Linked DNA regions of Homo sapiens. The protein of the gene in region 1 interacts with the protein of each later gene in a pairwise test. Each region holds a gene or a part of one and is shown on either strand. Other genes may lie near its edges.

The links.
Region 2: the proteins of RAVER1 (region 1) and CNOT10 interact in binary tests that used the Homo sapiens proteins (3 or more experiments, as listed by UniProt).

Annotation. Positions count from the first base shown.
Region 1 is NC_000019.10:10,323,450-10,327,265, forward strand, and holds part of RAVER1 (ribonucleoprotein PTB-binding 1), read right to left. Parts: intron 118-3,816; coding exon 1-117. UniProt on the Homo sapiens protein: Cooperates with PTBP1 to modulate regulated alternative splicing events. Promotes exon skipping. Cooperates with PTBP1 to modulate switching between mutually exclusive exons during maturation of the TPM1 pre-mRNA.
Region 2 is NC_000003.12:32,757,921-32,761,736, forward strand, and holds part of CNOT10 (CCR4-NOT transcription complex subunit 10), read left to right. Parts: intron 1-1,537; coding exon 1,538-1,651; intron 1,652-3,816. UniProt on the Homo sapiens protein: Component of the CCR4-NOT complex which is one of the major cellular mRNA deadenylases and is linked to various cellular processes including bulk mRNA degradation, miRNA-mediated repression, translational repression during translational initiation and general transcription regulation.

The DNA.
Region 1 (3,816 bases):
GTGGCTGCCCCCCAGGGACAGGCCGTCCGCCTGCTGCTGTGCCTCCTCCGCCATCTCAGCCGTCTCATACTCCAGCACCGCGAAGCCCTTCAGCTGCCCATCCTGGCCGCACGCCAGCTGCCGGAGGAAGGCAGGCAGTCATGAGCATCTGGGCAGCAGTGACTGCACCACCCCGGGAAGTGACAACCGTAACCAGACTCAGCTGCCCCATAAGGGTGAACTCCACGCCAGGCCTCCACTGCCCTGTGCCTCATTCCTGCATCAGCTCATCTGATTTTCCCAATGACCCTGGGAGGCTGCATCATACCCATTTCTCAGAGAAGGCAACTGAGGCACGGAGAGGTCAGCGCACCCAAGGCCACACAGCTGGAGGGAGGGCGGAGCTGGGAGCCACCTCACCAACAAAGCCAAGGCCACGGGCGGATGCGGTGGCTCACACCTGTAATCCCAGCACTTTGGGAGGCCGAGGCGGGCAGATAACCTGAGGTCGGGAGTTCGAGACCAGCCTGACCAACATGGAGAAACCCCGTCTCTACTAAAAATACAAAATTAGCCAGGCGTGGTGGCACATGCCTGTATTCCCAGCTACTTGGGAGGCTGAGGCAGAGGCAAGAGAGTCACTTGAACCTGTGAGGCAGAGGTTGCGGTGGGCCGAGATCGCGCCACTGCACTCCAGCCTGGGCAACAAGAGCAAAACTCCATCTCAAAAAAAAAAAAAAAAAAGAGATAATCAGCAACGGGTGGGGAAGGAAGGGCTCTCGTTCCAGACAGTGGCCAAGCCAGGTAGCAGTGCTAAGGGAAGTGGTTGGGCTGGGCACCGGCACTTGCTGAATGCCCGGGCAGCAAAGGTGCAGGTAGCAGCCCTTCACCTCTGCCCACGCCCTGTGCCAAGGTCTGGGCACAGATCTCCCATAACCAAACCTGTCGGCTTTTGTTTTGTTTTGTTTTTTTTGAGACAGAGTCTTGCTCTGTCACCCCGGAGTGCAGTGATGTGAACTTAGCTTACCGTAACCTCCACCTCCTGGGTTCAAGTGATTCTCCTGCCTCAGCCTCCTGGTAGCTGGGATTACAGGTGTGCACCACCACGCCCAGCTAATTTTTGTATTTTTAGTAGAAATGAGGTTTCACCATGTCGGCAAGGCTGGTCTTGAACTCCTGACCTCAAGCGATCCGCCTGCCTTGGCCTCCCAAAGTGCTGGATTACAGGCGTGAGCCACTGTGCCCGGCCATAAACACACCCATCTTAGGGATGAACAGAGAGAGACTCAGAGGGGTCACAGAGTGATCAAGGCCACACAATTCCTAAGTCGAGGGACTGATGTGTGAACCTCAAGCTGCTTCACTGTCAAGCCCACCCTCCATTCAGCTGGGTCACCTAACATTAAAGGTGGGCTCCTCGGAGGACATCACTTCAACGCCTGCTACTCATCAGATGCTCAACAAATGTTTGGTGAGACCAGGCCCAGTGGCTCGAATCTATAATCCCAGCTCTTTGGGAGGCAAAGGCAGGAGGATCGTTTGAGCACAGGAGTTTCAGACCAGCCTGGGCAACATAGGGAGACCCCATCTTCACATAATTTTTTTTTTTTTTGAGGGAGTCTCGCTCTGTTGCCCAGGCTGGAGTGCGGTGGCATGATCTTGGCTCACTGCAACCTCCACCTCCCTGGTTCAATCAATTCTCCTGCCTCAGCTTCCCGAGTAGCTGGGATTAAAGGCACCTACCACCACGCCTGGCTAATTTTTTTTCTATTTTTAATAGAGACAGGGTTTTTGTTTTTTGTTTTGTTTTTTTTGAGACGGAGTCTCGCTCTGCCACCCAGACTGGAATGCAGTAGTGGGATCTTGGCTCACCACAACCTCTGTCTCCCAGGTTCAGGTGATTCTTCTGCCTCAGCCTCCCAAATAGCTGGGACCACAGGCACATGCCACCACACCCAGCTAATTTTTTTTTTTGTATTTTTAATGGAGATAGGGTTTCACCATGTTAGCCAGGATGGCCTCGATCTCCAGACCTCGTGATGCACCCACCTCGGCCTCCCAAAGTGCTGGGATTACAGGCGTGAGCCACCGTGCCATGAGACAGGGTTTTACCATGTTGGCCAGGCTGGTTTCGAACTCCTGACCTCAAGTGATCTGCCCGCCGCAGCCTCCCAAAGTGCTGGGATTACAGGCATGAGCCACTGTGCCCGGCCTCTACATAAAATTTTAAAAATCAGCTGGGCATGGTGATGCATTCCTGTAGTTCCCCAGCTACATGGGAGGCCAAGGTAGGAGGATTTCTTGAACCCAGGAGGTCGAGGCCGGAGTGTACTCCTCCAGCCTGGGTGATTGAGAACCTGTCTCAAAAAAAAAAAAAATTAAGTTTAGTGAATGTTCGAGTGGAGGAATGAATGGGCAGCTGTTCACAACAACCTGATCATGAAGCACTGCCAGCCCCATTTTGAGATGTGGAAACAGGCTAGGAGAGTACCTGTAGCTGGTCATGACCCTGTGACCTTTGATCTCCACATAAGAAGGTAAGGCCAGGCCAGCGCAGTGGCTCACACCTGTAATCTCAGCACTTGGGGAGGCCGAGGCAGGTGTATCACCTGAAGTCAGGAGTTCAAGACCAGCCTGGCCAACACGGCGAAACCCCATCTCTATTAAAAACACAAAAATTAGCTGGGTGTGGTGTCAGGCGCTGTCATCCCAGCTACTCGGGAGGCTGAAGCTGGAGAATCACTTGAACCCAGGAGGCGGAGGATGCAGTGAGCCAAGATCGCGCCCCTGCACTCCAGACTGGGTGACAGAGCAAGACTCTGTCTTAAAAAAATATAAAATAAAATAAAAGAAAGGTGAGGCCATTGTGCTAACTCATCTTCTGTCCTGAGCCCGCACAGGCGGCCTGGTACATAGCAGGCCTGGTACGTAGCAGGTGTCCAAGAGAAAGCAGCAGAATGGATGAATGATAAGTAAACAGAGAGGGGGTTCCCGTGGCTCATGGATACTCAGTTTTTGTTTTTTTTGTTTCTTTGAGACGGAGTCTCGCTCTGTCGCCCAGGCTGGAGTGCAGCGGCACGATCTCCACTAACCGCAACCGCAGTCTTCTGGGTTCAAGCAATTCTCCTGTCTCAGCCTCCTGAGTAGCTGAGATTACAGGCGCGTGGCGCCATGCCTGGCTACCTTTTTTTTTTTGTTGTATTTTTAGTAGAGACGGGATTTCTCCATGTTTGTCAGGCTGGTCTCAAACTCCTGACCTCAGGTGATCCGTCCGTCTCGGCCTCCAAAGAGCTGGCATTACAAGCGTGAGCCACTGCGCCTGGCCTGTTTTTTTTTTTTTTTTTTTTTCTGTTTTTGAGATGCAGTGTTGCTTTGTCACCCAGGCTGGAGTACAGTGGCGTGATCTCAGCTCACTGCAACCTCCACCTCCCAGGTACAAGCGATTCTCCTGCCTCAGCCTCCTGAGTAGCTGGGATTACAGGCCTGCACCACCACACCTGGCTAATTTTTTTTGTATTTTTAGTAGAGACAGGGTTTCACCATGTTGGCCAGGCTGGTCTTGAACTCTTGACCTCAAGTGATCCACCTGCCTCGGCCTCTCAAAGTGCTGGGATTACATGCATGAGCCACCTCACCCAGCCTGTTTCTTGTTTTAAATATAGAGATGGTGTCCCACTATCTTGCCCAGGCTAGTCTTGAACTCCTGGTCTCGAGTGATCCTCCTGCCTCTGCCTCCCAACAGACACCTAGTTTAAATGGGGCACCAATACCCCACTTACACGAGAGGGACCCACTCAAGCCCACAGAGCTGGGGGTCCGAGCCCAGGACTGTCTCTC
Region 2 (3,816 bases), on another chromosome or scaffold:
AGGGACAAAATATAAACTTATGTTTGGATTAAACTTTTTCTACCTGTTTAAAAAGACAAGTTAGAATACCTATGTTGTGTATGCCTAGAACTTAGAAAATTATAATGTACAAGAATCTTTTCTGTTGTGTTTTTTGTAAGTGGTCTTGTGAGTTAATAAAGAAGCAATGTGATTGGATGGGAAGAACAGCGGATTGGGAGTCTACAATGTCAAATATTAGACCTAACTAATCACACACTAAGCTAAAGATTATGTTTACTCACTTTGAGTCTCTGTTTCCACATCAGTTAAACAAGGAACCACACTAGACAGTCTTTCAGCCCTCCCATGGTAGTATAAGGCATAAACCTCAATTTCGTTATGCTTCTCAAGGACCACTCTACTTTTCTGTGTTGTTAAGAGTTGAGGGGCTGCCTTTCTAAGATTCTAGGAACCAAATTCTAGGGTAGTTTTCTAAGATTCTAGGAACCAAAAGTTAGCAAGTGAAGAGGAAACAGAATACTTTTGAATTTGCCCAGCTGTGCTTTTTATAGGAAGAGCCATTTCTAGTCAGAGGATTTCAGAACATTTCAAAACTCTGTGGTGATATACTGGTTACATTCTTCCTTAGACTAAAATTACAACCTGAATGCACTTAATGATACATATGTGTATTGTAATTTGTAAACATAACTCAAAACCCTGTATCTGAGTGAGGTCATTTGTGGTTAGCCATTCAGACTTCATTTCTATTTGACAAGGGTTTATTTTAAGATTGCTTTGTGGAGCAGTTGTTTAACATTCAAGTGATCTATTAGTATTAAGTCTTTAACCAGACTTGTTTTAAATGAGCTGTCTGTGAAGTAGAAAACCAAATATTATAGAAACTTAGATTTCCAATCCAACTTAGCGAAATCAATGTAACTTAAACGTTGTCTTCACATATGTTTGTTTAACCTGTTTTTTTTCCTTCAGTATTCCTTTAGAAGAATAGTAACTGTGTGAATAAAACTTTTTAGTTACTCTTGATACTATGGTTTAGCAAGAACTGTAGACTTAATTGGTTGAGAAAAGAACATTTAAAGTAAATGAATGCTTTAGTAAGTTAATTATTTCTTAGCATATCACAAATATATGTAGAAAGAATAAGATCTCATTCTATAGCTTTATTCCTAGGTTATTAAAAGCAAACTTCTATGGAAGTTAGTTCTCATTAGGCTATATATATATAGTGTGTGTGTGTGTGTGTGTGTGTATTTATCTATACATATATACATACATACATACATACAGGCTATGTATTGTAATCCATTGGTTATTTTGTTGGGGATGTGGGTCAATTGGATGAAAGCTAAAGATGACTTATGTAAATAGCCAAACTGTGTTTCAGAATTGTTTTATACATCAATCTAATTCTTACCATTAGTACCGTGGCTTCCTCTCCTCTTTCCTGGTGTCCAGATTGTCACAGCTAAAGGGCATTTCTTCCTATTTAGCAAATATAACCATTATCAATGTTTAAAATGAGATTTTCGGCCCCTTCCCTTTTGTGTTATAGGTGCTCCATACTTGCTTGCAGTGCCTACGTGGCTCTGGCTTTGGGTGATAACCTCATGGCTTTGAATCATGCAGATAAACTTCTTCAGCAGCCCAAGCTGTCAGGATCTCTTAAGTAAGTGTGACTTGCCCTGTGTGTCCCTGGTTTCTTTAGTTTTGAGGTTTCTCCTTGGTTTGTGGTTTATGTTGCTTCTTTTGACTCCTCCAGTGGAATATATATTTGTAAGGAAAGCAACTGTTTAAAAGAACGTTTTTTAACCCATGCCTCGGCAGTGAAAATGTTTTCACTTGTGCTGTACTGAGCGTTAGGAGACAAAAACTTCGGACTCTAGTGTCCACTTCTAGGCTTCACTGCAGCACTTTAATTCTCCAAATAAGTCAAGTCCTCAGAGAGAAGACCTACAAAAAAAGGAGTGTGGTCAATGTGATAAATCTACTTTGAGGGACCAGGCACGGTGGCTCACGCCTGTAATCCCAGCACTTTGGGAGGCCGAGGCAGGCAAATCACGAGGTCAGGAGTTCAAGACCAGCCTGGCCAACATGGTGAAACCCTGCCTCTACTAAAAATACAAAAAATTAGCTGGGCGTAGTGGCGGGCACCTGTAATCCCAGCTACTCAGGAGGCTGAGGCAGGAGAATCGCTTGAACCCAGGAGTCAGAGGTTGCAGTGAGATCTCTGCACCACTGCACTCCAGTCTAGGCTACAGAGCAAGACTCTGTCTCAAAAAAAAAAAAAATAGACAAGAATTTGAAAAATCTTTCCAAGCTACTGTATCATTCCAGAATCAGCTAGTTTTAGTCAAACTGCAAATACTTCTTCATTAATATCATTGTCATTCTAAAATTTTCCAAAGCACATTATCTTTTCTTTTACCAAAATTGAGTAAAATACAGGCCAGGTGTGGTGGCTCATGCCTGTAATCCCAGCACTTTGGGAGGCTGAGGTAGGCAGATCATTTGAGGTCGGGAGTCTGAGACCAGCCCAGCCAACGTGGTAAAACCCCATCTCTACTAAAAATACAAAAATTAGCCAGGCATGGTGGCAGGCATCCATAATTCCAGCTACTCGGGAAGTTGAAACAGGAGAATCACTTGAGCCTGGGGGGCGGACGTTGCGGTGAGCCACGGTTGCACCATTGCACTCCAGGCGGAGTGACACAGCAAGACTCCCTCTCAAAAAATAAAAATAAAATACAGCTTGAATTTTTGTATGGTGCTGATCCTGGAAATTTTATCAAAAGCCACGAGTATTCTGCACAACATTAGAACAGTTCTTTCATTCATCGTATAGGTGTATACTTACAAATGCCAAAATATAACTACTTACTCTTTGGCTTTTTAGTGATCCCCAAACATACCTAGTGTTTTTGTTTTTTTTTTAAGTAATTAAGGCCAGGCGCTGTGGCTCACACCTGTAATCCCAGCACTTTGGGAGGCCTACCTGGGCAAATCATTTGAGGTCAGGAGTTGGAGACCAGCCCTGCCAATATGGTGAAACCCCATCTCTACTGAAAATATGAAAATTAGCCGGGCATGGGGGCACACTCCTGTAATCCCAGCTACTCGGGAGGCTGAGGCACGAGAATTGCTTGAGCCTGGGAGGCAGAAGCTGCAGTGAGCCAAGATTGTACCACTGCATTCCAAACTGGGTGACAGAGTGAGACTCCATCTCAAAAAAAAGTAATAAATCATTCAACTATATAAGAGACTTTGTCACAATTCAAATATAAGGGAGCTCCTGCTCTTCTGCAAGAAAATCTTGTCCAATATTCAGGCCTGGAGATGGGGAAGATCCTAATTTTCAGTTCAAGGCATTTGGGTTGCCTCTAAAGTACCTTCCGTCCTTATCATTGCCCAACTCAAAATGCCAATGTTGGGAATTGCAGCTGATGCTGGTGTTCAGATTGTGGTGTATACGGCCATTATGAGAGAACTGGACTTTGTGTGTTTGTGTGTGACTGAGTCTGTCTGGGTCACCCACACTAGAGTGCAGTAGCACAATCTCAACTCACTGCAACCTCCACTGTCTGGGTTCAGGCGATTCTCCTGCCTCAGCCTCCCGAGTAGCTGGGATTACAGGAGCCCACCACCACACCCGGCTAATTTTTTTTCTTTTTCTGAGACAGTTTCACTCTGTTGCCCAGGCTGGAGTGCAGTGGCATGATCTCAGCTCACTGCAACCTCTGCCTCCCCAGTTCAAGGGATTCTCCTGCCTCAGCCTCCTGCGTAGCTGGGATTACAGGTGCACGCCACTATGCCCTACTAATTTCTTTTTTTTTT